Homo sapiens: one gene and its partners. The protein of the gene in region 4 interacts with the protein of the main gene of each other region in a pairwise test. Each region holds a gene or a part of one and is shown on either strand. Other genes may lie near its edges.

Evidence for each region.
Region 1: the proteins of BCAP31 (region 4) and TIMMDC1 interact in binary tests that used the Homo sapiens proteins (3 or more experiments, as listed by UniProt).
Region 2: the proteins of BCAP31 (region 4) and HACD2 interact in binary tests that used the Homo sapiens proteins (3 or more experiments, as listed by UniProt).
Region 3: the proteins of BCAP31 (region 4) and TRAM1 interact in binary tests that used the Homo sapiens proteins (3 or more experiments, as listed by UniProt).
Region 5: the proteins of BCAP31 (region 4) and DERL1 interact in binary tests that used the Homo sapiens proteins (3 or more experiments, as listed by UniProt).
Region 6: the proteins of BCAP31 (region 4) and CFTR interact in binary tests that used the Homo sapiens proteins (3 or more experiments, as listed by UniProt).
Region 7: the proteins of BCAP31 (region 4) and DRD2 interact in a two-hybrid assay, tested with the Homo sapiens proteins (one large-scale study listed by BioGRID and IntAct).

What each region holds. Positions count from the first base shown.
Region 1 is NC_000003.12:119,501,547-119,505,046, forward strand, and holds part of TIMMDC1 (complex I assembly factor TIMMDC1, mitochondrial isoform 1 precursor), read left to right. Parts: intron 1-1,985; coding exon 1,986-2,074; intron 2,075-2,407; coding exon 2,408-2,475; intron 2,476-3,500.
Region 2 is NC_000003.12:123,575,054-123,578,553, reverse strand, and holds part of HACD2 (very-long-chain (3R)-3-hydroxyacyl-CoA dehydratase 2), read left to right. Parts: intron 1-3,500. UniProt on the Homo sapiens protein: Catalyzes the third of the very long-chain fatty acids (VLCFA) elongation four-step cycle (condensation, reduction, dehydration, and reduction).
Region 3 is NC_000008.11:70,594,917-70,598,416, reverse strand, and holds part of TRAM1 (translocating chain-associated membrane protein 1), read left to right. Parts: intron 1-161; coding exon 162-283; intron 284-405; coding exon 406-522; intron 523-2,095; coding exon 2,096-2,154; intron 2,155-3,500. UniProt on the Homo sapiens protein: Involved in the translocation of nascent protein chains into or through the endoplasmic reticulum (ER) membrane by facilitating the proper chain positioning at the SEC61 channel.
Region 4 is NC_000023.11:153,714,388-153,717,887, forward strand, and holds part of BCAP31 (B-cell receptor-associated protein 31), read right to left. Parts: intron 1,303-3,500; coding exon 1,155-1,302; intron 1-1,154. UniProt on the Homo sapiens protein: Functions as a chaperone protein. Is one of the most abundant endoplasmic reticulum (ER) proteins.
Region 5 is NC_000008.11:123,015,487-123,018,302, reverse strand, and holds part of DERL1 (derlin-1), read left to right. Parts: intron 1-2,717; coding exon 2,718-2,816. UniProt on the Homo sapiens protein: Functional component of endoplasmic reticulum-associated degradation (ERAD) for misfolded lumenal proteins. Forms homotetramers which encircle a large channel traversing the endoplasmic reticulum (ER) membrane.
Region 6 is NC_000007.14:117,478,664-117,482,824, forward strand, and holds the start of CFTR (cystic fibrosis transmembrane conductance regulator), read left to right. Parts: upstream 1-1,361; 5' UTR 1,362-1,431; coding exon 1,432-1,484; intron 1,485-4,161. UniProt on the Homo sapiens protein: Epithelial ion channel that plays an important role in the regulation of epithelial ion and water transport and fluid homeostasis. Mediates the transport of chloride ions across the cell membrane.
Region 7 is NC_000011.10:113,465,399-113,468,898, reverse strand, and holds part of DRD2 (D(2) dopamine receptor), read left to right. Parts: intron 1-3,500. UniProt on the Homo sapiens protein: Dopamine receptor whose activity is mediated by G proteins which inhibit adenylyl cyclase. Positively regulates postnatal regression of retinal hyaloid vessels via suppression of VEGFR2/KDR activity, downstream of OPN5.

The DNA of each region.
Region 1 (3,500 bases), on a different chromosome or scaffold from region 4:
TATAATATCAAGATCAGGAAATTAACACAGATATAGTACTATTATCTTATTTAAAGACCTGTAAATTTTGCTAGTTATCCCACAGTATCATTTATTTTAAAAATAAATAAAAAAATGTATTTTTCAGAAGTTAGGCTTGAGTTCTTATTAAAAAATTAATTAATTAAATTTTTTTTTGTCTGGTCCAGAATCTGACCCTGGATCACATGTTGAATTTGCCTGTTATGCTGCTTTGGTCTCATTTAGTCTGGAAGAGTTTCTCTGTTTTTGTCTTTCATGGCCTTGACTATGGGTGATTTATTTTGTAGAATGTCCCTCAATTTGGGTTTGTTTGATGGTTTCTCATGACTGCATTCAGACTATGTTTTTTGACAGGAATACCCTAGAACTGAAATTAAATTAGAAACCCATGATATCTCTGTCCCTTTACTGGTGATGTTTACTTCAGTGACTTGCTTAAGATGGCCTCTGCCAACTATACACTGTAAAATTACTATGTTTTTCCTTGGTAATTTATAAGTATTTTGAGTACTTGTTAGTTCCTTTGAGACTATGTAAATATCCTGCTTTTCATCAAATTTCTACTACTTAAATGCTATTATAAACTATAATATTTCTACTATCTAAAAACTATTCTAAATTCTTAGCATTTATAATTTTTTTATTTTTTTAAAAATTATTTATTCCTTTATTTATTTTTTGAGACAGGGTCTCACTCTGTTGCCCAGGCTGGAGTACAGTGGCACAATCTTGGCTTGCTGCAACCTCCATTTCCCAGGCTCACTCGATTCTCCTGTCTCAGCCTCCCAAGTAGCTGGGACTATAGGCATGTGCCACCATTCCCAGCTAATTTTTGTATTTTTTGTAGAGACAGGGTTTTGCCATGTTGCCCAGGCTGGTCTCAGAGTCCTCAGCTCAAGCAGTTCACCCCCTCCTTGGCCTCCCAAAGGGTTGGGATTATAGGTGTGAGCCACTGTGCCCAGCCTATTTTTATTTTTTAATTAATTAATTTTTTTTTTGAAATTTTTTGAGGCAGGGTCTTCCTGCCTCAGTGCAGGCTGGAGTGCAGCGGCGCGATCATAGCTCACCACAACCTCAAACTTCTGGACTCAAGGTTTCCTCCCGCCTCAGCCTTCCGAGTAGCTAGGACTGCAAACACACACCACCATGCCTAGCTAATTCTTAAATTTTTTTTGTAAAGGCAGGATCTCGCTATGTTGCCCAGGCTGGTCTTAAACTTGTCGGCTCAAGTGATCCTCCCTAGTTGCCTCCCAAAGTGCTGAGATTACAGGTGTGAGCCACCATACCCAGGCAGTTTTAGCATTTAATGATGATTCTTCCTGTAACAATTATGACTGTGGTGGCCAAATGGGCATTTTCTAAAGTCTATCATTCTTTCTACATTTATTGGTTAGTATTATGCTCTAAGGAAGTGTTTTCCCTTCCCCCCTCTATTTACATATTTATTTATCTATTTATAATTTATTTCTATCAGTAGGGACTCATGGATTCTTATTTTATTCTGTAGATTTATAATTCATTACAGGTTGAGCAGCACAAATCTGAAATCCTGAATGCTCAGATTCAAAACTTTTTGAGCATTGACACGTCATTCAAAGGAATTGCTCATTGGAGCATTTCAGATTTCGGTTTTTTGGATTTGGGATGCTCAACCAGTAAGTGTTAAAAGCGCATATTCCCAAATCTGAAAAAATCCTAAATCCAAGTATCAGATAAGGGATCTGGTCTCAAGTATCAGATAAGGGATACTCAACCATTTTTTCATCTCCTGATAGGATAGGCTACACATGGAACTTTTACGTAAGCCTCAATACTTAAAGAATAGTATTTCTAGAGATTTTCTAGTATTTCTATCTGTTTGGGTGTACCTGACTAATCCATAGCTAAAATTCCTCTACCGCAGTTCTAGAATAAGGAAAATATGATGGTGTCTTAGAACCTCACAGTTTTTTAATTAACTTTAGCAATCTGCACATCGTGCTGCCACACGAGGCTTCATTCGTTATGGCTGGCGCTGGGGTTGGAGAACTGCAGTGTTTGTGACTATATTCAAGTAAGTTCACTCTGAATTGTGAGATAGTGAATTTTCTTGATATTGTTTTAGGAGTGTGTCTTTTGAGCAGGTGGGGTTATGAAAACTGAATACCCACATGAAAGTGATTAATAATGCCTTTTTTTTTTTTTCAAGAACTTTTCTCTGTGTAAAAGACTGGTGTAGTTATGGTTTTACAACCATGTCTGGAACACATTGAAGGGGCCTAGGCTAGGAACAGGGATTGATATAGTAGGCTTTTCTAAATCTATTAAGTCAGTGAAAATAACACTCAAGAAGGTAAATGGGATATGCTTTAAATCTTATATTTTCCTTCTCCTCCCTTTTTACCAGCACAGTGAACACTAGTCTGAATGTATACCGAAATAAAGATGCCTTAAGCCATTTTGTAATTGCAGGAGGTAAGACATTTTTGTTTATATTTTTCAGTCTTCTCAAATACAGTTTAGAAAATGTGTAAGGACTTATACATCAGAACTACTGAATTCTTTGGTTGGCTTCCCATTACATCTCATCAACATTGATGCAAAATGTATTTATGGACAGTGTTGTGCTTCACCCTTGATATACTCAATGGGCAAAACAGCAAGGCCCTTGCTTTCTTTGAATTTTAATGTCTAATATGTATGTGATAATACAGGTTGTTGTGATAGAAAGTAACAATTCGGTGGAACAATGGGATCTCATATGGACAGGGTAGTCAAAGAAGGCCTTTCTGAGGAAGTGACATTTGAGCTGATACCAAAGAATAGGAAGGAGCAAGACTTGCAAGGAAGGGTGTCCTAAATAGAGGGAACATCAAGGGGGAAGGCTCTAAGGCAAAACATTTCCTTAAAAGCAGGATAATAACGTGGTGAGTGAGGGAAAGAGTAGCTTGAGATGAGATTGGTGAGGACTATAGGAATGGACTAGATTTTTTATGGTAAGAACTTGGATTTTATTTTAAAGCTCTCTGCCTCTAGTATATATATGTATATTTTCTTTTTAATGAGCATTAAAAATAGAAGGTACAATGGTGATTACCAGAGACTGGATATGGGGTTGGAAAAGATGTTGGTCAAAGGATACAAAATTTCATTTAGACAGGAGGAATAAGTTCAAGAGATCTATTTAAAACATGGTAACTATGGTTACTAACAGTGTATTGTATACTTCAAAATTGCTTTTAAAAAGTAGATTTTGGCCAAGCGGTGGCTCACACCTGTAATCCCAGCACTTTGGGAGGCCAAGGCAGGTGGATCATCAGAGGTGATTTGAGACCAGCCTGGCTAACATGGTGAAACCCCGTCTCTACTAAAAATACAAAAATTAGCTGGGTGTGGTGGCAGGTGCCTGTAATCCCAGCTACTTGGGAGGCTGAGGCAGGAGAATCACTTGAACCCAGGAGGCAGAGGTTGCAGTGAGCTGAGTTCACGCCATTGCACTC
Region 2 (3,500 bases), on a different chromosome or scaffold from region 4:
CACACCTGTAATCCCAGCACTTTAGGAGGCTGACATGGGGGGATTGCTTGAGGCCAGAAATTCAAGACCATCCTGGGAAACATAGCGAGACCCCATCTCTACAAAAAATTAAAAAATTGGCCAGGCATGGTAGCACATGCCTGTAGTCCCAGCTAATCAGGAGACTGAGGTGGGAGGATCACTTGTGCCCAGGAGTTCAAGGCTACAGTGAGCCATGATCGTGCCACTGCACTCCAGCCTGGGTGACAGAGCAAGACCCCATTTCCAAAAAAAAAAGTATCTATAAATAAAATGCTACTCATGGATAAAATGTGGTCTATGGATATAAACATTCATAAAATTAATAAAGGCAAATGAATTACTGATATATGCCTGGATAAATCTTGAAAAAATGCATGTGAAAGGAGGCAGATACAAAAAGTCACAAATAGTATGATTTCATTTATAAGAAATATCCAGAATAGGCAAATCCATAGTGACAGAAAGTAGAGGAATTGTTAGGGGCTGTGGGGAGAGAGAGTGGGGTGTGACTGCTAATGGTACAGGATTTCCTTTTAAGGTGATGATATTGTTCTTGAAATAGTGGTGGTGGGTGCACAACTCTGTGAACATATTAAAAACCACTAGATTGTACAGTTTAAAATTGTGAATTTTGTGGCATGTGAATTATATGTCAGTTTTTAAAAAACGAGTTCCTCTGTAATGAGTTGTGGGTGTTTTCTACTTTATTCATTTTTGGAGTCCATGATATTCATTGATGAGGCAGATGTTATCTTTGCATATTTGTCAAGTATAGTTAGATTAAAAATTAGTGGACTAATGCAGTTATGGCAGTTTAAAATTATGTTTGAGAGAATTTGGGTTTCTAAATATCTTTGGTTAACATAAGACTGTAATTATAGCAAAGACACTTTCTTTTTTTTTTTTTTTTTTGAGACAGAGTCTCACTCCATCGCCCAGGCTGGAGTGCAGTGGCGCGATCTCGGCTCACTGCAAGCTCCGCCTCCCGGGTTCACGCCATTCTCCTGCCTCAGCTTCCCGAGTAGCTGGGACTACAGGCGCCCGCCACCACACCCGGCTAATTTTTTGTATTTTTAGTAGAGACGGGGTTTCACCATGTTAGCCAGGATGGTCTCGATCTCCTGACCTCATGATCCGCCAGCCTCGGCCTCCCAAATTGCTGGGATTACAAGTGTGAGCCACTGCGCCCGGCCAAAGACACTTTCAAATACTCATGATTGGATATGCCTCTGTGATTGACAGTGAGATTTCAAATGGGTTAAAGATTGCTCTGCAAAGAGGTTAACTGTTGAGATTGATACAGGCTATCTTCAACATATGTACATTGCTGTATATGACATTTACCTACCATTGTGCATCTGGGACTTCCTGATGGACCACAGGAATTCCCTTTTCTTCCCATTCTCTTCCAGATCTTTCTTCTACTTGAAACCCCTTATCTACAAAAATGAATAAACAACCCAATCTCATTTCTGATCGTGTCCTGGAATTGATCTAGGGCAAGGTCTGGAGAAGTGGTGGGAGACAGCAGACAGCTTTTGTTAGTCTTCTAACCCCAGCACTTTCTCAGCCTCATCTGTGTGTTCCTGTCTCACTCTGCAGACCTCACTTCACAATGCTCTTCAGATCCTTTAATGAATAGGAAATTGATTTTGGGTATTTCTATAAAATACAGCAAAGTCTTAGAAACTTGCAGTGTCCTTAAGAAGAAAGATCCCTTCTTATCTCCCTGCCAGTTTTTCTTTCTTTATGGCTCAAACACTAACTGATTTTTGCCATGGAGGTATTGTGCTTCAGACTGCTTTTGTGAACTGGTTTGAGGACATAACCGTTGTCTGTTATATTTTTCCTTCTTGTGGAAACATTCTGATTTCCCAGTAATAGTCTCAAAAAGGAACTTCTGAAATGCAAGCTACATGCATGTGTTAGGCTCCTTTTATTCTGGACCCATTTTGAGGAAACACATCTCTAAAAGAGGCTTTTGAAAAGCTAGCAAGAGCAAGTTATAGTGTAGATATCTAACACAAATAGGAATGACAACAAATCCCAGAAAAACCAGCTTCTCAAACAGTGTGAAAACCAGAGGAAAACTCTAACTTGATTAAAATTAATAAGTGTCACAACATTAGAAGGGAAGAGAGAGCTGGAAGGAAACAGGAACCCACCCACACAGGCCTCACTGCTTGGTGACTCAAGCAAATAGAAGCAAATTGATGTGGTATTCAAAGAGGTACAATAGCTAACATCTGTAGAAGGGAATGTACTGAAATTAAAAAAAAAAAAGAACTAAAAATATCAATGGTGGCAATATAGGGCACGAAGGAGCCACAGTGCAAGAAATAGGTGATACTGAAGATTCAAAAAAGGCGGGAGTTTCCACTCACGTTCTCATATAAAATGAATTGCAGAACAGAAGTCATAGGGAAATTTTCAAAGTTCACCATGTAAAAGAAACATTACAAAACATTATAACAGAAAAACAATATATATAGAACCAATGTATCTAGAAAACCTGATGAGGTTGTATAAGCTTTCAAAAAGTAAGACTACCAGAGGAAGTAGAAAAGGTTGGAATATACAGCTTATAAATAATCAGGGAGAAAAGTTATAGAAAACTTTGCTGAACTGAAAGGCCACCTCACTATGGTTAGTGAGAGTTTATGGTGTTCCACAACAAAAAAATTTCTTCCCTTCCTGAGTACTTAAACAATTTCCAGCATAAAAGAGCAGATTTTAAAATGTAATAGTTAAAAACAACTTGGGACCTTAAACTTGAAAGAAGAAAAAATCCCCGTGTAGTAGGAAATATTAGGTTCCTGGATAACAGACCATGCAGTTTCCTAAAGCTGGAAACATTTTGAAAACACTTAGAAAAGCTAATGGAACTTTGAAAGCACCTTACCAAAGATTATTTAACTTTAATCAGAGTAGTTAGCTGTTATCAAAGAGTAACTGTTATATAAATAAATAAAATTAACCAAGTTTTCAGACTAGCACTGTCCAATAGGACTTTCTGCAGTGATAACGTTGGAACGCTGTCCAAAACAGTAGCCACTAGTCACTTAAAATGTGGCTAGTGGGTCTGAGAAACTGAGTTTTTAATTTTATTTACTTTTGGTCAGGAGTGGTGGCTGACACCTGTAATCCCAGCACTTTGGAAGGCCAAGGTGGGAGGATCGCTTCAGGCCAGGAGTTCAAGACCAGCTTGGGCAATATAGCAAGACCTCGCCTCTGCAAAAAATTTTAAAAATTTAAAAAATTAGCCGGATACAGTGGCGCATATTAGTCCTAGCTACTCGGGAGGCTAAGGCAGGAGAATCGCTTGAGCCCAGGAGTTTCAGGCTGAAGTAAGTTATGGTCACTCCACTGCACTCCAAGTCTAGGAGACAGAGCAAGACCCTGTTTTCCAAAAAAAAAAAAAATGAAAATTCTTTACTCTTTATTTAAGTTTAAATAGGCACATATGGCTAGTGGCTGCA
Region 3 (3,500 bases), on a different chromosome or scaffold from region 4:
CCTCTAAGACTCAAGATGTCCAAGACCACGTTATTTATGATGTTAATATAGAACTTTTTTATTAGGTTATTCTTCTTTGTTTCCATAACTATGTTGTACTTAATGCTGTTTTTATAACCTTGTGTATATTTTTGTGTATTTGTGTCCTTTTTGGTCTTCAGAAGAACAAGCTACTGAATCAGTGTCCCTTTATTACTATGGCATCAAAGATTTGGCTACTGTTTTCTTCTACATGCTAGTGGCGATAATTATTCATGCCGTAATTCAAGAGTATATGTTGGATGTAAGTATGCAGTCTTAGAAATCTATACTTTATAAAGTACTAGCTCTCCATAATCTGCTAGTCATATATTAAATATAATTTATAATTTATTCTTAATTACTAATGGCTGTTTTTATTTTTAGAAAATTAACAGGCGAATGCACTTCTCCAAAACAAAACACAGCAAGTTTAATGAATCTGGTCAGCTTAGTGCGTTCTACCTTTTTGCCTGTGTTTGGGGCACATTCATTCTCATCTCTGTAAGTATGTCCTCTTAGGTTGTTGTTCTCCTTCCTTATCTAAGATTAGAAACTCTGCTAATGAAATAGTATTAAGTTAAGAGTTTCAGTGATAAATCTGTTTTAGGTATTTTTTTATACAGCAAAAATTCTAAACTATGTTTACTGTTTCAGAAAGGCTTATTCATTTTTAGTCACTCTGAATGTTACTTTTATATCTTTCTTTTTTTTTTTTTTTTTTTTTTTTGAGACAGAGTCTCGCTCTGTCTCCAGGCTGGAGTGCAGTGGCATGATCTCGGCTCACTGCAACCTCCGCCTCCCGGGTTCAAGCGATTCTCCTGCCTCAGCTTCCCAAGTAGCTGGGACTACAGACGCACGCCACCACGCCCAGCTAATTTTTGTATTTTTAGTAGAAACAAGGTTTCACCATGTTGGCCAGGATGGTCTCGAACTCCTGACCTCGTGATCCACCCGCCTCGGCCTCCCAAAGTGCTGGGATTACAGGCTTGAGCCACCAAGCCCGGCCTTACTTTTGTATCTTATAGTGGTTTACAGATACCTCTGTATCAGCAAAAAGCGTAGGTTACATGAGTTGTAATGTTCACAGTCATTTCCTCCTTTAAAAACAGCCCCAGTGTTTTCCAAGCTTCTTAAATGTTGTATAACTTTTCAGTTATGGCAATCAAAACCTTTAGTTGTATCACTCTAACTAATGAGAAAAAGAAAGGCAGTATTTGCTTTAATATTAGTGATAACAATCCCTTAAATTTATATGGTGTTCCATAGTTTACATACTTTTGAGTTTGTCAGACACATAATTCTTTCTAATCACTGTATTAGAGATGAATAACAGTGAGTTTTCCAGGGTAAAGCACTTCATGTTGGAAGTAGACTAAAACTCAGCTTTTTATTCCATTGCTCATTCCATTTTACTGTGCTGCTTTAATAATACTTTATAGGTAATATGTAAATTTTAGTTTAAAAACTATTATACATTTTTTTAAAAAAACATAAAAGTTATACTTCTGTGGGAAAATACTCTTACAAAAATCACTTTAGATTTTATTTATTTTTTAATCTTTTTTTTTTTTTTTTTACATATGCAGTAATTCTCACTGAGTAGATCTGATTATCTAAGAAAAAAATTGGGGCAGTATTTTATTGACGTAATTCCATAAAACTCGGTAGCACCCTGATCCTTTGTCTCCTGTCAGATGCTACAAACTTTTCCTGAAATCTTCTGATTACCTAAGACAAAATTCTTCTCTCCTGGTCACTGTTGTGCCTCTTATTGGTGGTTTTATGTTTGTTTGTGTACGTGTATTTTTATTCTATGGGATTGAAAGATTTTTTAGGGCCAGGAATTATGTCTTACCTGATTCCATATCTCATTTCTATCATTGATTTTCATTTTGCTCAAGTAACCAACTCAAATTGGCTTGAAAATAACTAAAACAACTAAGGATTTTGACATTAGTGGGTTCTTTGCAACCTGGTATGGGACCTGTAAATGTTTGAGAAATGAAAGTAATGCCTTATTTTCCAAGAAGTTTGCATTATGCTCACAGGTTAATTTTTATATCTTCTTTCTTAGGAAAACTACATCTCAGACCCAACTATCTTATGGAGGGCTTATCCCCATAACCTGATGACGTAAGTCATTTTTAGCAGCCCTTTCTTTGTTAAGGACCATGGTCATGTCACTATTAATCAGAATTCATTCTTGTTATTCTCTTTAGGACCTTAGGCAAATGCATAAAATAGATGAAAATATGTCTTTGACAGTCCCACTGCCGTAAGAAAAAAAAAGCTGTGTACCTTTTTTTAATGTTTCTATTCTAATCTTTTCAACATCTTTGTAAGCTTGAGACAACTGATTTTAACATAACTTAATTTGGTACTCGCTTCTTTTCCCTTCTTTTCACTCATACTTTCTCCTTTTTATGACTCCATCTTCTCTATATTTTTGCTCCTTTTCTTTGTCCCCACCCCCTGTCTCTTTTCACATCTTCCTTTCTTTCTCCTATTATAAGCTTCTTGAGGTTAGGAATTGTTTCTTTTTTATTTCTCTAGTCTGTACAGTGCTGCTGGGTTAAAGTGCTCAGTGGTTACCAAGACGTCTGAATAATTCATTATTCGAGCCCAGCTCTAGTACAACTATTCTATATTAATTTTCCTTGCTATTTTAGCCTGTATTGGTCTTTTGTATCCCCAAATTTGTCATTTTGGTAGAAATTTGATGTAGTGTCTATATATTGTTTTGATTGTTCTATAATTGTCTCATTTTTGTAAGTCTTGTATTGTGCCCATACCCACTAAGACTATATGTGCCTTGGTAGCGGTAAAAACTATTTTATATCCTTCATTGTGCCAGGTACATTGCAAGTGCTTGTCACCTACACAGTATTTAGTAAATACATTGTGATGTGAGAATTGGAGAAGGGAGAAGATACGAAGGAAAGAAGGGAATAACCTGACTGTGGGTATTTTAAGTCTAGCAGTAATACCCACTCTACTGAATCATACTCTGATTTCTAAAGTTTTATTAGTTCAACGAACTTTGTAAATATTATATTTATGTGGGACTGTATTCTCTCCACCCCGACCACCAAGAAATTAGGTTGGCTTTGTGTTTTCTATTTTAGACTTCTGGAGGAGAAGGAGCAGGGAGAATAAAGAGGAAGCAGAAGGGCTAGAGGGATATAATGTCAAGAGGAGAGTATTGGTTCTAGACTGATTATGATATAGCTCCTGGAGAGCCCTTGTGTGCCTTATTCTGACTGTCTTTAATCCTAGCTCTGCCTCCATTTATTTGGGGCTTTCTCCATGTTCCAACCAGGTACAGTTACCATATTTGCCTAAGAAAAAAAAAAAAAACAGAGGATATTTGAAATTGGGATTATTCCAGTTTCAGGTGATTATTAATCTATGAGCCTTTGCTTTTGTGTCAGTCTTTTTCCCCTTCTTGTCTTGATGAAACTGTATAGACATGTGGGTTA
Region 4 (3,500 bases):
GGGTATGTGTCTGACTCCTCCCAGCCTTCCTGACTTTCCTAAGTTTGAAGACAGCAAGCTTGTAGATCAAATCTGTGATCAAACCCATTATCTTGAAAAAAATGTGTTTGCCTTTTCTAGCTCCACCCCTCTTTCCAACTTGGTCGCAGAGAGTACCAGATCATCTAAACAACAGATTTTAAGACAAGTAGTCATCGTAGCGCCTAGTAAAGCAGGACACACCAGGTGACTAGAGAGCAAGAATCTCCTAGGCATGGAGATTCTTGAGTCTCGGGGCACAAAACCAAGTGGGGAATAACTGTCCATGAGCCTGAGAATCACTTGGTGCTATGGTCTGAGTGCCCTTCAAACTTCATGTGTTGGAATTTAATCCTCACTGCCGTAGCATTAAGAGGTGGGGTCTTTTGAGAAGTGATTAAGTGATGAGAGCTCCACCCTCAAAGCAAGCGCCTTTCCAATGCCTTCATACATGGTCTGAGCTCCCATCCACCTCCCAGCCAGGCCCTGCTGATCAGAACGGCTATGTGAAGCAGGAGGCAGCAAACAGGGCCCCAGGCTCAAATAGGCACTTCGTAGTGGTCTAGTTTTGCCCGACTAGTTACCCTTAGCCTTGATTAAGGTACTTAGTTTTACCAAAAAAATCATCAGAAATACTCTGGCTGCCATGGAATGTAACATGTCCTCATTACGAGTTTCACGTGGGGAAGGCCCTGAGGTGAGGAGAGGCCCAGCCTCTTCGTGCCACTTTTACCTGCTGTCCCTAGGTCAACACCCCGGACACAAAGAGTCCCCCATTCAGTCGCTCCCTTGTGAGCTGGACTCTGAAGGTCCTCTCCCAGAGGAGGGCAAGGCCTTACCGTTACATCTCACTCTCCATGCAAACAGACCGTGAGATAGTCATCTGTTTGCCTGAGAGTATGTGGTGTGTGAGGGTCTTCTGATATTTCAGGCAGCCCTCTCCTACTCTCCACGCTGCCTCTGGAGGTCAGGAGAAAACTATGTGGCTTCCCTAACACAGACAGGGCTTTGGGATCCAGGCCACAGACTGAGGAGGAATCAAAGTCACAGGGGGGAGACTGAGCCCACTGAGCTCGGTGTCCATGGCTAGCCCATGGCTCCTTTCACAGCACCTGCCCCCTCAACCCCCCACTCACAAGGACAGCAGCAAGGAAAAGCCAGCAATGTAGAGATTCCTCTGGGCACGGAAAAGCTTCATGTGGAAGTGCTCCATGGCCCCGGGATTGTTCTGGAGGTTCACCTTTTCCGTCACATCATCATACTTCCGAATTTCGCGCACGGCATCTGTGGTGGAGCAGAGAGGAGACACGGGCATTTAGCGGACACTAGGGCAAGATAAGGCCATACCAGGCAGACAGGCGGCATGAGACAGGTCAGACTCACTTCCCTCAAATCCGCCTCCCCAGTTCTTCCCACTTCTATGCACATACACCCCTCATGGGATGCTGTTATCAGAAGCTCCCACCCTCAGGCCAGGTGCAGTGGCTCACGCCTATAATCTCAGCACTTTGGGAGGCAGAGGCGGGCAGATCACCTGAGGTCAGGAGTTCGAGACAAGCCTGGCCAACATGGCAAAACCCCATCTCTACTAAAAATACAAAAAAAAAAAATTTAGCCCGGCGTGGTGGTGGGCGCCTGTAATCCCAGCTACTCGGGAGGCTGAGGCAAAAGAATCATTTGAACCCGGGAGGCGGAGGTTGCAGTGAGCCGAAATTGAGCCACTGCACTCCAGACCGGGGGACAAGAGCGAAACTCCATCTCAAAAAAAAAAAAAAGGAAGCTCCCACCCTCAGACCCACTCCTTCCTCCAGCTTTTCAATCCCTGGCCCCATTCTACACAGGCCCCAGGCTTGCTCTGCAGTTCACGATGCTAACCAAGCCTAAAGAGTTTCTGGAAATGGGGGTGGCTTCCTTTTCCCATGGTACCCTCACCGCGTCTTGTTCTGTTCATCTCAAGTTGGCCCATAGCCCCCCAACCCCCACAATGATAAGTTGAACCTGGAGATGGAAATGCCTGCTCCGGGGACCTAAGGTGCTTAAGAGTCAAGACCCAGGCCAGATGTGGTGGCTCACGCCTGTAATCCCAACACTTTGGGAGGCCAAGGCAGGAAGACTGCTTGAGGCCAACGAGTTCAAGACCAGCCTGGGCAACACAGGGAGACTCTCTCTCAACAAAAAAAAAAAAAAAAAAAAAAAAAATTTTAAATAGCTGGGCATGGTGCTGCACACCTGTAGTCCCAGCTACTCGGGAGGCTGAGACAGGAAGATCGCTTGAGCCCAAGAGGTCAAGGCTGCTGTGAGTTACGATCACACCACTGCATTCCAGCCTGGGCGACAGAGCGAGACTCTGTCTCGAAAAAGCCAAAACAAAACAAGCAAACAAACAAAAAAATAGGAGTCAAGACCTGCAGGATACCAGCTAGGAGTCAAGGGTTTCATTTCAAAGCTTTACAATGGGTTTTATTATCTATAATGTTTTATTCTGATTACGAAAGGAATTCACACTCATCGAAAGTTCAAACACACCCAAAATGTAGAAACGGAAAGGATCCCATAACATAATCACATCTAGCAGTATATACAATAAAAATGTGGTCACATCTAAAGTCATTTTTAGTCACATTACACTGTTACCTGCTTCGTAATAGACATCCATCTCTGAAATTCTCTTTAAACACATTTTTTGGGTCCATCTCTCCCAAAGTAGACTACAAACTTCATAAGAGCAGAAATCTTTTATACTATATTCCCAGGGCCTGGGATAGCTCTGGGTGCAGAGTGGGCACTGAAATAATTGCTGAGTCAGTGAGCAGCCTCTGCTCCTGAAAGAGCCGCTGTTAGACATATAGAGCTCCAGTTAAAAATATATTTATATTTGTCTCTAATGTAGAAATTGAGCCACGCCAAACCTACTGCTTTTCCCCATGCATCCTGAGACATCGTTTTAAGTCAATACACTAAGATGTACCCAAAGAATGCTCTTAATAGACTCCCATATGAGAGGAGCAAGGTATCACTGTATGGGTATCGAGGTTCTTTTTGTATGGTGGGTTACAGGGTCTCACTCTGTCACCCAGGCTTGAGTGCAGTGGCACGATCCCAGCTCACTGCAACCTCCACCTCTCAGCCTCCCCAGTAACTGGGACCACAAGTGTGTGCTACCACACTCAGTTAATTTTTTCTTTTTCTATTTTTGGTAGAGACGGGGTTTCGCCATGTTGCCCAGGCTAGTTTCAAACTCCTGAGCGCAAGCAACTGCCTCAGCCTCACAAAGTGTGGGGATTACAGGCGTGAGTCAGGGCACTGGCCTCATGGGGTTCTTAATTTCCGGTTTTAGGCTGCTTAGTTTTTATGTTGATCTTGCATTATAAAAATCTGCCCATCCCTCAGCACCACGAAGCGAGTACTCTCAAACGCTGTTAGCAGGGGTAAAAACAGCACACCTGTATAAAATGCAAAATGTTCATACCCTCGGGTTCAAC
Region 5 (2,816 bases), on a different chromosome or scaffold from region 4:
AGGCTGTCGAAGAACGGGCCAGTTAAATCACCATCTGGGTGTCACAGCCTGCCTGACAATCATGCCTAATCTCATATCAGGGATATGCAGTAATAGCTTGCATTTGAAAGCTTTAAAAAAACAAACAAACCAAACCCTTCCACATCTTGCTAATTTTAATGTTTTGCAGTTCTGTCATTCCTCTAAGGGATCAGTGAGGGCAGTAAAACTTGAGCAGGCCTCCTCTTTCTCCCCTTCCTTTTATAGGGTAGGGGTATGTTTTTCAAAGACTTTTCAAATTGTGAACTGTAATATACAGAGATATACCATATTGGTGGTTGTGGTGTGTGTGTTTTTCTTTAAGAGAATAAAAAGAAACTTGTTTCTCTTCTGAGCCTTGAATTGCCTTCAGGCTAAAAAAACAAATGACCAATCTGGTTTCTAATTATCAAAGGACATAATAACAGCAGGTTTGGCTTTCTGATCTAGGTTTATCAAGTAGGATGGCAGATGCATCAATTAAAAAAAGCTTGGTGCTTTTGGGGGGCAGCCAACAGTTACTTTACTTTAAATGGCCATATTCTAACTTAACGGCTTGTAGCTACTTCTCAGTTGTGGGCAACACAGGATACAAGATTCTAGTGGCAAAATCAGCGAGCCCTGGAGCCTGCCTTCCACTTGAACTTTCTCTGTTGGGGGAAGTCCTTCTGCTAAATTTTGCATAAAGATCAGATGACAAAATACAGCTCCTTGCAAAAGCAGTAACTGCTTTGAAATTACCATAAATTTTTGTTGATTATGTATAATTGGGTATCTTTTTATACTAATTATTTGCATTTAATTTCACTATCTACTTAAGCAGTGGAGATGGCTTCCATATTGTCTTAGAGTGAGTAGCAAAGCAAGACAGCCCTAGCATTTTCTCCAGCAAGTGTTCTATTTTATTATGTACTTTGGAGGAATATTATTGTACCAGAAGGCATGGATGTTGAGAAACCAGCACTTGGAAAATACATTTTGATTTAATGGTAAAGCTGTATTTGTTTAAAATGGAGGAGGTGAGTATAGGAAGGTATAACTGCTTTTCTAAATGGAATGCTGATACATTTGTATCACCATTTTCCATTCCATTTAGAGTAGTTATATCTTCTCTGTACACACTAAATTTTGTGTTTAAAAGGGGTTTTTGGCCAGGCGTGGTTGCTCACGTCGGTAATCCCAGCATTTTGGGAGGCCGACGGGTGGATCACGAGGTCAGGAGATCGAGACCATCCTGGCTAACATGGTGAAACCCTGGCTCCACTAAAAATACAAAAATTAGCTGGACATGGTAGCGGGCGCCTGTTGTCCCAGCTACTCGGGAGGCTGAGGCAGGAGAATTGCTTGAACCCGGGAGGTGGAGGTTGCAGTGAGCTGAGATCATGCTACTGCACTCCAGCCTGGTGACAGAGTGAGACTCCGTCTCAAAAAAAAACAAAAAAACAAAAACCCGAGTTGTTGTCTGTTTTGGGAAGAGGCATGAAGGTATCGAGTATGATGTAAACAGACTCCAGTCACTGACTGCTGTCCCTTCCCAGGCAGGATGCATGTAGTATAACAAGTAGTGCAGGGCGCAGGCTCTGGAACCAGGCTGACTAGGTTGGAATCCTGTCACTTTCGAAGCGCTTCACTCAGTGTTGGCTCAATTTTCTTGTTTATAAAACAGGAGTAATAGTAATGCCTACCTCATGGGGTTATTGTGAAGATCAGATGAATTTATAAGCAGGCAGCACCTAGTGTAAGGCAATAATCACTGAGTAAATTCACATAGTAACTGCTCTAGTATAAGGTCAAGTATAAAGCCTGTCCTCTTCAGGGTTTCTGCTGTGGACAAGTCACCTGTCATGACTTACTCTTGCTGCCAAGAAGGGTTTAAGCGGAGGTATCAGATCATGCTCTCTGCCTTCAAGCAAAATTTTAAACATTAGGATCTGCTAAGTGGAATAGGTTTAAACACATTCTCAGTTTACTAATAAAAGAGTCAAAGATGGGAAATAGTTGGAAAATACTATTGAGAGTGTAGGCTTGGGTTTAAGTTCTCTTAGCTGTTCTGTGAACTCTTAGTTTATTAATTTTAAGGTGGGAAATCATCTAACCGTCTGGGGCCCCAGCTCTCCCACCATCTGTGAGAAGGGAAGAATGTACCTGGAAGGCAGATTCTGAATAAATTTTAAAACATACCCATACTTCCAACATAGAAAGCCTTCTTCCCCTGTCTCCTTTGATGGGCTCAGCTGAGAGCCTTTTAGAAATGCTGTGCAAGGCTCAAACATGCAGGCTGTGGATTTGGCCTTTGAAAGTGAATGTATTTTGTATCCTTTGATCCAGTTTGAGCCATATTTAGATATACCAAGATGCTATCAGTCATTCTTTGGTTGCTGGGCTTGTGGGTGTAATATTTTTGTTTCCATACTGTTCTGCATGGATTACTTTTATAAGCAGAGAAAAAAACGTTCAGAGTGTGAATTTAGCTGAAATCTGAATACATTTAAGAAACATGAAAAACGAATGCCGTCTGTGGTCAGGTCATGGGGCTGAGTACAGAAAAGACAAAGTTAAATAAGACGTCCCTCGCTGCCTTCAACATGACAAGTGCCATGGGAACAGCAGGAGAGGGAGGTGTTCTCGGAGGTCAGATAACTATGTGGAAGTGACTTTGTTCTCTTCTCTCCGTTTGTGTCCCCGTCTTTCTGCACCAGGTACCGCTGGCTGCCCAGTAGGAGAGGAGGAGTATCAGGATTTGGTGTGCCCCCTGCTAGCATGAGGCGAGCTGCTGATCAGAATGGCGGAGGCGGGAG
Region 6 (4,161 bases), on a different chromosome or scaffold from region 4:
ATGCACATTTTATTTGTACTGTATTTGGGTGACCACAAGTCAACAACAAGATAATTCACAAGACCCTTGCCTTAGATGTGTCGGCAATAAAGTAATCAGGCCAAAATTTTTACTTTCCTTTGAATTTTTCAATTCAAACACAATGTATGCTTGCTTTTACACAGTAGGGTTCAGGGATTAGAGGGTTGGCTCTTTAAAAACCGTCAGAGACACAGGCAATCCTACACAAAATTCTCAGAAGGAAGGCGCCTACGCCTGGGAATGCCCAGATGCCCCTCAGAGAGTTGAAGATGGCGTTTCTCTGAGTCAGGTCAAAGTTAACACATTACCTTCGCTTCAAAGACTGCTTGGCTTCCTTTCGGTGGATTAGTCAAGATGTTTTGCTGACTGAGACTAGGAAATCTATAGGAGGGCGGGTTAGTTTACATTGTTCCTTGTCATTATCGCTAAAACACTCCAAAGCCTTCCTTAAAAATGCGCACTGGGCTAAAAAGGATAGACAAGGAACACATCCTGGGCCGGTAATTACGCAAAGCATTATCTCCTCTTACCTCCTTGCAGATTTTTTTTTCTCTTTCAGTACGTGTCCTAAGATTTCTGTGCCACCCTTGGAGTTCACTCACCTAAACCTGAAACTAATAAAGCTTGGTTCTTTTCTCCGACACGCAAAGGAAGCGCTAAGGTAAATGCATCAGACCCACACTGCCGCGGAACTTTTCGGCTCTCTAAGGCTGTATTTTGATATACGAAAGGCACATTTTCCTTCCCTTTTCAAAATGCACCTTGCAAACGTAACAGGAACCCGACTAGGATCATCGGGAAAAGGAGGAGGAGGAGGAAGGCAGGCTCCGGGGAAGCTGGTGGCAGCGGGTCCTGGGTCTGGCGGACCCTGACGCGAAGGAGGGTCTAGGAAGCTCTCCGGGGAGCCGGTTCTCCCGCCGGTGGCTTCTTCTGTCCTCCAGCGTTGCCAACTGGACCTAAAGAGAGGCCGCGACTGTCGCCCACCTGCGGGATGGGCCTGGTGCTGGGCGGTAAGGACACGGACCTGGAAGGAGCGCGCGCGAGGGAGGGAGGCTGGGAGTCAGAATCGGGAAAGGGAGGTGCGGGGCGGCGAGGGAGCGAAGGAGGAGAGGAGGAAGGAGCGGGAGGGGTGCTGGCGGGGGTGCGTAGTGGGTGGAGAAAGCCGCTAGAGCAAATTTGGGGCCGGACCAGGCAGCACTCGGCTTTTAACCTGGGCAGTGAAGGCGGGGGAAAGAGCAAAAGGAAGGGGTGGTGTGCGGAGTAGGGGTGGGTGGGGGGAATTGGAAGCAAATGACATCACAGCAGGTCAGAGAAAAAGGGTTGAGCGGCAGGCACCCAGAGTAGTAGGTCTTTGGCATTAGGAGCTTGAGCCCAGACGGCCCTAGCAGGGACCCCAGCGCCCGAGAGACCATGCAGAGGTCGCCTCTGGAAAAGGCCAGCGTTGTCTCCAAACTTTTTTTCAGGTGAGAAGGTGGCCAACCGAGCTTCGGAAAGACACGTGCCCACGAAAGAGGAGGGCGTGTGTATGGGTTGGGTTTGGGGTAAAGGAATAAGCAGTTTTTAAAAAGATGCGCTATCATTCATTGTTTTGAAAGAAAATGTGGGTATTGTAGAATAAAACAGAAAGCATTAAGAAGAGATGGAAGAATGAACTGAAGCTGATTGAATAGAGAGCCACATCTACTTGCAACTGAAAAGTTAGAATCTCAAGACTCAAGTACGCTACTATGCACTTGTTTTATTTCATTTTTCTAAGAAACTAAAAATACTTGTTAATAAGTACCTAAGTATGGTTTATTGGTTTTCCCCCTTCATGCCTTGGACACTTGATTGTCTTCTTGGCACATACAGGTGCCATGCCTGCATATAGTAAGTGCTCAGAAAACATTTCTTGACTGAATTCAGCCAACAAAAATTTTGGGGTAGGTAGAAAATATATGCTTAAAGTATTTATTGTTATGAGACTGGATATATCTAGTATTTGTCACAGGTAAATGATTCTTCAAAAATTGAAAGCAAATTTGTTGAAATATTTATTTTGAAAAAAGTTACTTCACAAGCTATAAATTTTAAAAGCCATAGGAATAGATACCGAAGTTATATCCAACTGACATTTAATAAATTGTATTCATAGCCTAATGTGATGAGCCACAGAAGCTTGCAAACTTTAATGAGATTTTTTAAAATAGCATCTAAGTTCGGAATCTTAGGCAAAGTGTTGTTAGATGTAGCACTTCATATTTGAAGTGTTCTTTGGATATTGCATCTACTTTGTTCCTGTTATTATACTGGTGTGAATGAATGAATAGGTACTGCTCTCTCTTGGGACATTACTTGACACATAATTACCCAATGAATAAGCATACTGAGGTATCAAAAAAGTCAAATATGTTATAAATAGCTCATATATGTGTGTAGGGGGGAAGGAATTTAGCTTTCACATCTCTCTTATGTTTAGTTCTCTGCATGTGCAGTTAATCCTGGAACTCCGGTGCTAAGGAGAGACTGTTGGCCCTTGAAGGAGAGCTCCTCCCTGTGGATGAGAGAGAAGGACTTTACTCTTTGGAATTATCTTTTTGTGTTGATGTTATCCACCTTTTGTTACTCCACCTATAAAATCGGCTTATCTATTGATCTGTTTTCCTAGTCCTTATAAAGTCAAAATGTTAATTGGCATAAATTATAGACTTTTTTTAGCAGAGAACTTTGAGGAACCTAAATGCCAACCAGTCTAAAAATGCAGTTTTCAGAAGAATGAATATTTCATGGATAGTTCTAAATACTAATGAACTTTAAAATAGCTTACTATTGATCTGTCAAAGTGGGTTTTTATATAATTTTCTTTTTACAAATCACCTGACACATTTAATATAGGTTAAAAAATGCTATCAGGCTGGTTTGCAAAGAAAATGTATTACAAAGGCTGCTAAGTGTGTTAAGAGCATACTCATTTCTGTTCTCCAAAATATTTCATAAGGTGCTTTAAGAATAGGTATGTTTTTAAAAGTTAAGTTCCTACTATTTATAGGAACTGACAATCACCTAAAATACCAATGATTACAAACTTCCTTCTGGCCTTCTGGACTGCAATTCTAAAAGTGTAAAAAACATATTTTCTGCATTAAGTTAGGCAGTATTGCTTAGTTTTCAAAGTGGTAGGCTTTGGAGTCAGATTATTTTGATTCAGATCCTACATCTACTGTTTAGTAGCTCTGTTGCCTGAGGCAGGTCCCTTAACATCTCTGTGTGTGACTTGACCTTTAAAATTTGGAGACTGTCATAGGGGTTAATCCCTTGAGAAAATGAATGTGAAAAGTTAGCCTAATGTTAACTGCTATTATTATGGATTACCATATTTTCACATTCATCACAGTACATGCACCTTGTTAATATAAGATGCTCAATTCATCTTTGAGTATAATTTTGTGACTCTCAATCTGGATATGCAATGAGTGGGCCTGTATGAGAATTTAATTTATGAAAAATTGTGTTTCACATGGCCTTACCAGATATACAGGAAACACGTCACATGTTTCTATTGTATGTTGTTAAATGCCTTAGAATTTAACTTTCTGAATAGGATCCCTTCAGTTTGAGAGTCATAAAAGAGTAAAATTATTATGGTATGAGTTATAGATTGTATTGAATATCTCTTTATATGTCTAGGTTTTGTCATTGGAAAACCAAAAAGTTTGGAAAAAAAATCTAAGTTATTTCTTACTTTCTTAATTTTGTGTGGATTTCACATCAAGTATAAAATTTGAAGAACATCTGAACTATCATAATCCATATATATATATAAAATAAACATAATCTAAGAGAGAATTTCACCATGAAAAATTCAGGTAGTTCATGACTATCAGAGCAAACAAGTACATTAAATTGAAACTTTTATGAAAATAACATTTATGAAATAGGAAGCTATTTTTAAACTAGAAGTGATATATTAGCATATAATTTATAATTCATATACAAGTGGGATTGATTTATAAATGGTCACCAACAGAGATTGTGCTATTTAATTTGGGAAAATTTTTTAAATTTACATTTTCTCACAACTTTTAAGGTAGTTATTCAGTTTGTTCCTCTCTGTCTCTTCTCTCATGCCCTGAATTTTTCATATTTCGTTTAGTTGTAAGA
Region 7 (3,500 bases), on a different chromosome or scaffold from region 4:
GACAGACACAGGAGTGACTCATGAGAGCTGCCTTTAAAAAATGAGCTGATTAGCCAGACGCGGTGGCTCACGCCTGTAATCCCATCCCTTTGGGAGGCTGAGGTGGGCAGATTGCTTGAACTCAGGAGTTCACAACCAGCCTGGGCAACACAGTGAAACCCCATCTCTACTAAAACACACAAAAAAATTAGGATCTGGCAGCATGCACCTGTGGTCTCAGCTACTCAGGAGGCTGAGGCAGGAAAATTGCTTGAACCTGGGAGGTAGAGGTTGCAGTGAGCCAGTATCGTGCCACTGCACTCCAACCTGGGTGGCAGAACGAGACTCCATCTCAAAAAACAAACAAACAAACAAACAAAAAACAAAAAAAACCCTGATCAATGCTTTTCTGATAGACAGAGGCAGGTGAGGCCTGGATGTCCCTGGGCAGGGCACTTAACCTGCTCATCAGTTATTTCAGGCACAAATAAGGGACTGTAATAATCGTGTTCACCTCATAATAAGTGAGAAGACTCCTCTGTTGTTGAGCCTCACCATGAGTTTTATGAATGACATATATCAATATTTAGTCACCTATTTAAACCCTTTAAAAACAACACCATATGGTAGTTAAACCTGTGGGCTCTGGAATTAGACTTCCAGGATTTGAATCCTGACTCTAACACTTACTAGCTATGTGACCATGAGCAAGTTAATTAACCTCTATCACCTGGGGGTTCTCACCTGTAAGTGGATGTTAATACCAACATAATTGGGTCACAGTAATTAATTAAGGTAATAGAGACAAGACATTTGAAAGAGTCCCTGGGAAAAGTGAGTACTCTTTAAATGTTAACTGTAATGATTGTTATTGTTATTATTAAGATGCTTAAGTAAGAAACAACACTTTGAGCTGTTGTCCTTTTGCAGTAATTCAGCACCTGATTTTACATTTCTGAAATCATGTTTCTAAAACGTTCACAAAATTCAAGGATATACTTCTTTCTTACACTCTCCACTTATCTGCACCAAAATTCTTTGGCTTTCACCTGTCAGCAGCTCTTGCTCATTTTGAGCGAGATAGGGGTTTGAATTGCTTGTCATCCCTTTGATTTAGGTGCAGCTGAATTCATTTCCATCTTACACCACATGAGCTAGGAAGAGGCATAAGTTATCCTGGTGATAGCTTTTCATGGCCTAATTTTTCTTCCTGGTTTCCTGGGCTCTGTGTCTGCTACCTCATGGTTGGAGCCTCCCTGATTGGCAGTGTCACATGGTATGTTGCTCTGGCACAGGCCAGTTTTTATTAAAAACAAAAAACAAGGAGAATGTACTGGTGTACAAGGACAAGGTGACTTTTTTTCTTTTCCCAGATTGAAAGGGCCAAAGAACTTCACATGAGCAGACCCCCAAAGCTGGCAGAAATATGTGTTCTGCAGCTTCTGGAGTCATTCTTGGCAGGAGCAAATGCTATCATGTTTTTAGGTGAAGTATGGTCCTGCCTGAGAAAGGAGGATGGAAACAGTAGCTTCTGGTCCTGAGATTCCCCAGTGCATAAAGATAATCCCTCTTGTTGGCCTTTTTCTTGGTCTATGAATCCCTTCTTGGGGAGGACTCTCTTGTAATTGATGTGCATCTATTTCTGGCCAGCTACAAATGCTCACCATTTAGCTATGGTAGAATATTTCAGAAGGCACTGTAGGTATTCTGTTCCTGGGTCATCTTCCTTGGTTCATCCTTTTTTGGACTCAGCCCTTTCAACTCTTTCACTCATTTATGGCAGGGTCAATAAGAGACATGTGTTGACAAGCAGAAACTAACTTCCAGGGTCCCAGGCAGAGGATGTCAGCACCGCCTCCCACCGCCTGCCCCCGCACCACGGTGGATCCATGTTTCCACACACTATTTTTCTTTAGTAGTATGTGTAGTTGAAGGTCTGGGATCACTCTAGAGTCACATTGTGACTAATGACACAAAATCTCCCTTGTGGCCTGTCTTCTGTGAGGAGCCAACTTAATGCTTAATGCTAATCTCTCAATTGTGCATTTCTTGTCTTCTCCACCAGACCATGAGCTCCTTGAAGCAGAGAATTTGTCTCATGCTTCTCTAAAATCTATTATAACCTAAAATGGTGCTAGGCACTTGGTAGTTACTTAAATTGTTGAGTGAGAGTGGGTGAGTGGATAAGTGATGGGTAGGTGAGAGACAGCTTACTTCCCCATAGCGACACTCTCCCTCTACTTTACTTGCAGCTTAACAAGAGTGGCAGTGTCTGAGGCATCCCCCACTAGAGGTATCTCATAGGTCAGCAACATACTTCATGCCTTCTCTCTTTCATCCCTAACCTGCACTATCTGGCCACCCTCAGCCATGAAGACATTATAGGTTGGATGGAAATTTTTCGCAGTTGTCACAGGGCATGGAAGTTGGGGAATATTGAATGGTTGGAACCTACTTCAATCAGACACACTCATGGAGAAAATGCACTGGGGGGGCTGTTGAGGAAACATACACAGGTGTGTTTGTTCAGGTCAGCCTGGGGACCTGAAGACAAAAGAGCTGTTATTGAGGGATGCCATTAGTGCTTTGGTGATTTCTGTGTTTAGACTTTGGGGAATTGGACTAGTCCTTACTTTAAAAGGTACAGATAAGCATGATTATACCCAAGACCCTCCAAACGCAGTAACAGTTTGAACCTATCTTTCCACAAAGCACTTTTAAGAAGTGGGCTATGCATCCCCTGTCCCTCTAGTTATTTAGTTAAACAAAGTGGTTCAGAGCACTCAAAAACCAGGCTAATGCAGGATCAGATCTTTGTTCTATCGGTCATGAGCTATGTGACCTCTATCAAGTTACTATCACCCCTTTGAGATGCAGTTCTTTATCCCTTCATAAAACAGGATGACTATATACTTACCTGATTGGGTTTTGTGCAAAGGAAATGAGTCACGCACATAAAGTGCTTGTCTCAGTACCTGATGCATGGTAAGCTCTCAGCAAACATTCACTATCATTATCCTTATCGTAATTATCAGTGGGCAGAGAAGTGTCCACAGAACCCTTCCCAACCTGTGCTCCAAATTTTATATTCTCTCTTCTGGAGGGAAGAAAGACACCATTGCAGATGAAGACATTAGACCAGGTATGAATTGGCATAGAGTGTTATACTTGAAAGAACCCAATGTTACACAGCAGAGAAGTAGGAGAGCTGGACTAGAACTCACTTCTGCCCAGGGTTTTTCCTCCACACCTGGCTCAGGTTAGACCATGGAGTTTTGAAGAAACTCAGTGGCTAATGAATGGGATTTGAAGTGAAGATGGTACAAGGTAAGGCCAAAGGCTTAGGCAGGGGCCTGACTATGAACCTTGAAGTCTTATGTAGGAGACTGGATTCCATCCTGAGGGAAAAAAGAAGCCAACTTGAAGGATTGGGTTTTAAGCACAGGGACAACTCCAGTGATTCAATTTGCAGTAAAACAAACAAACAAACAAACAAACAAACAAACAACAACAACAACAAA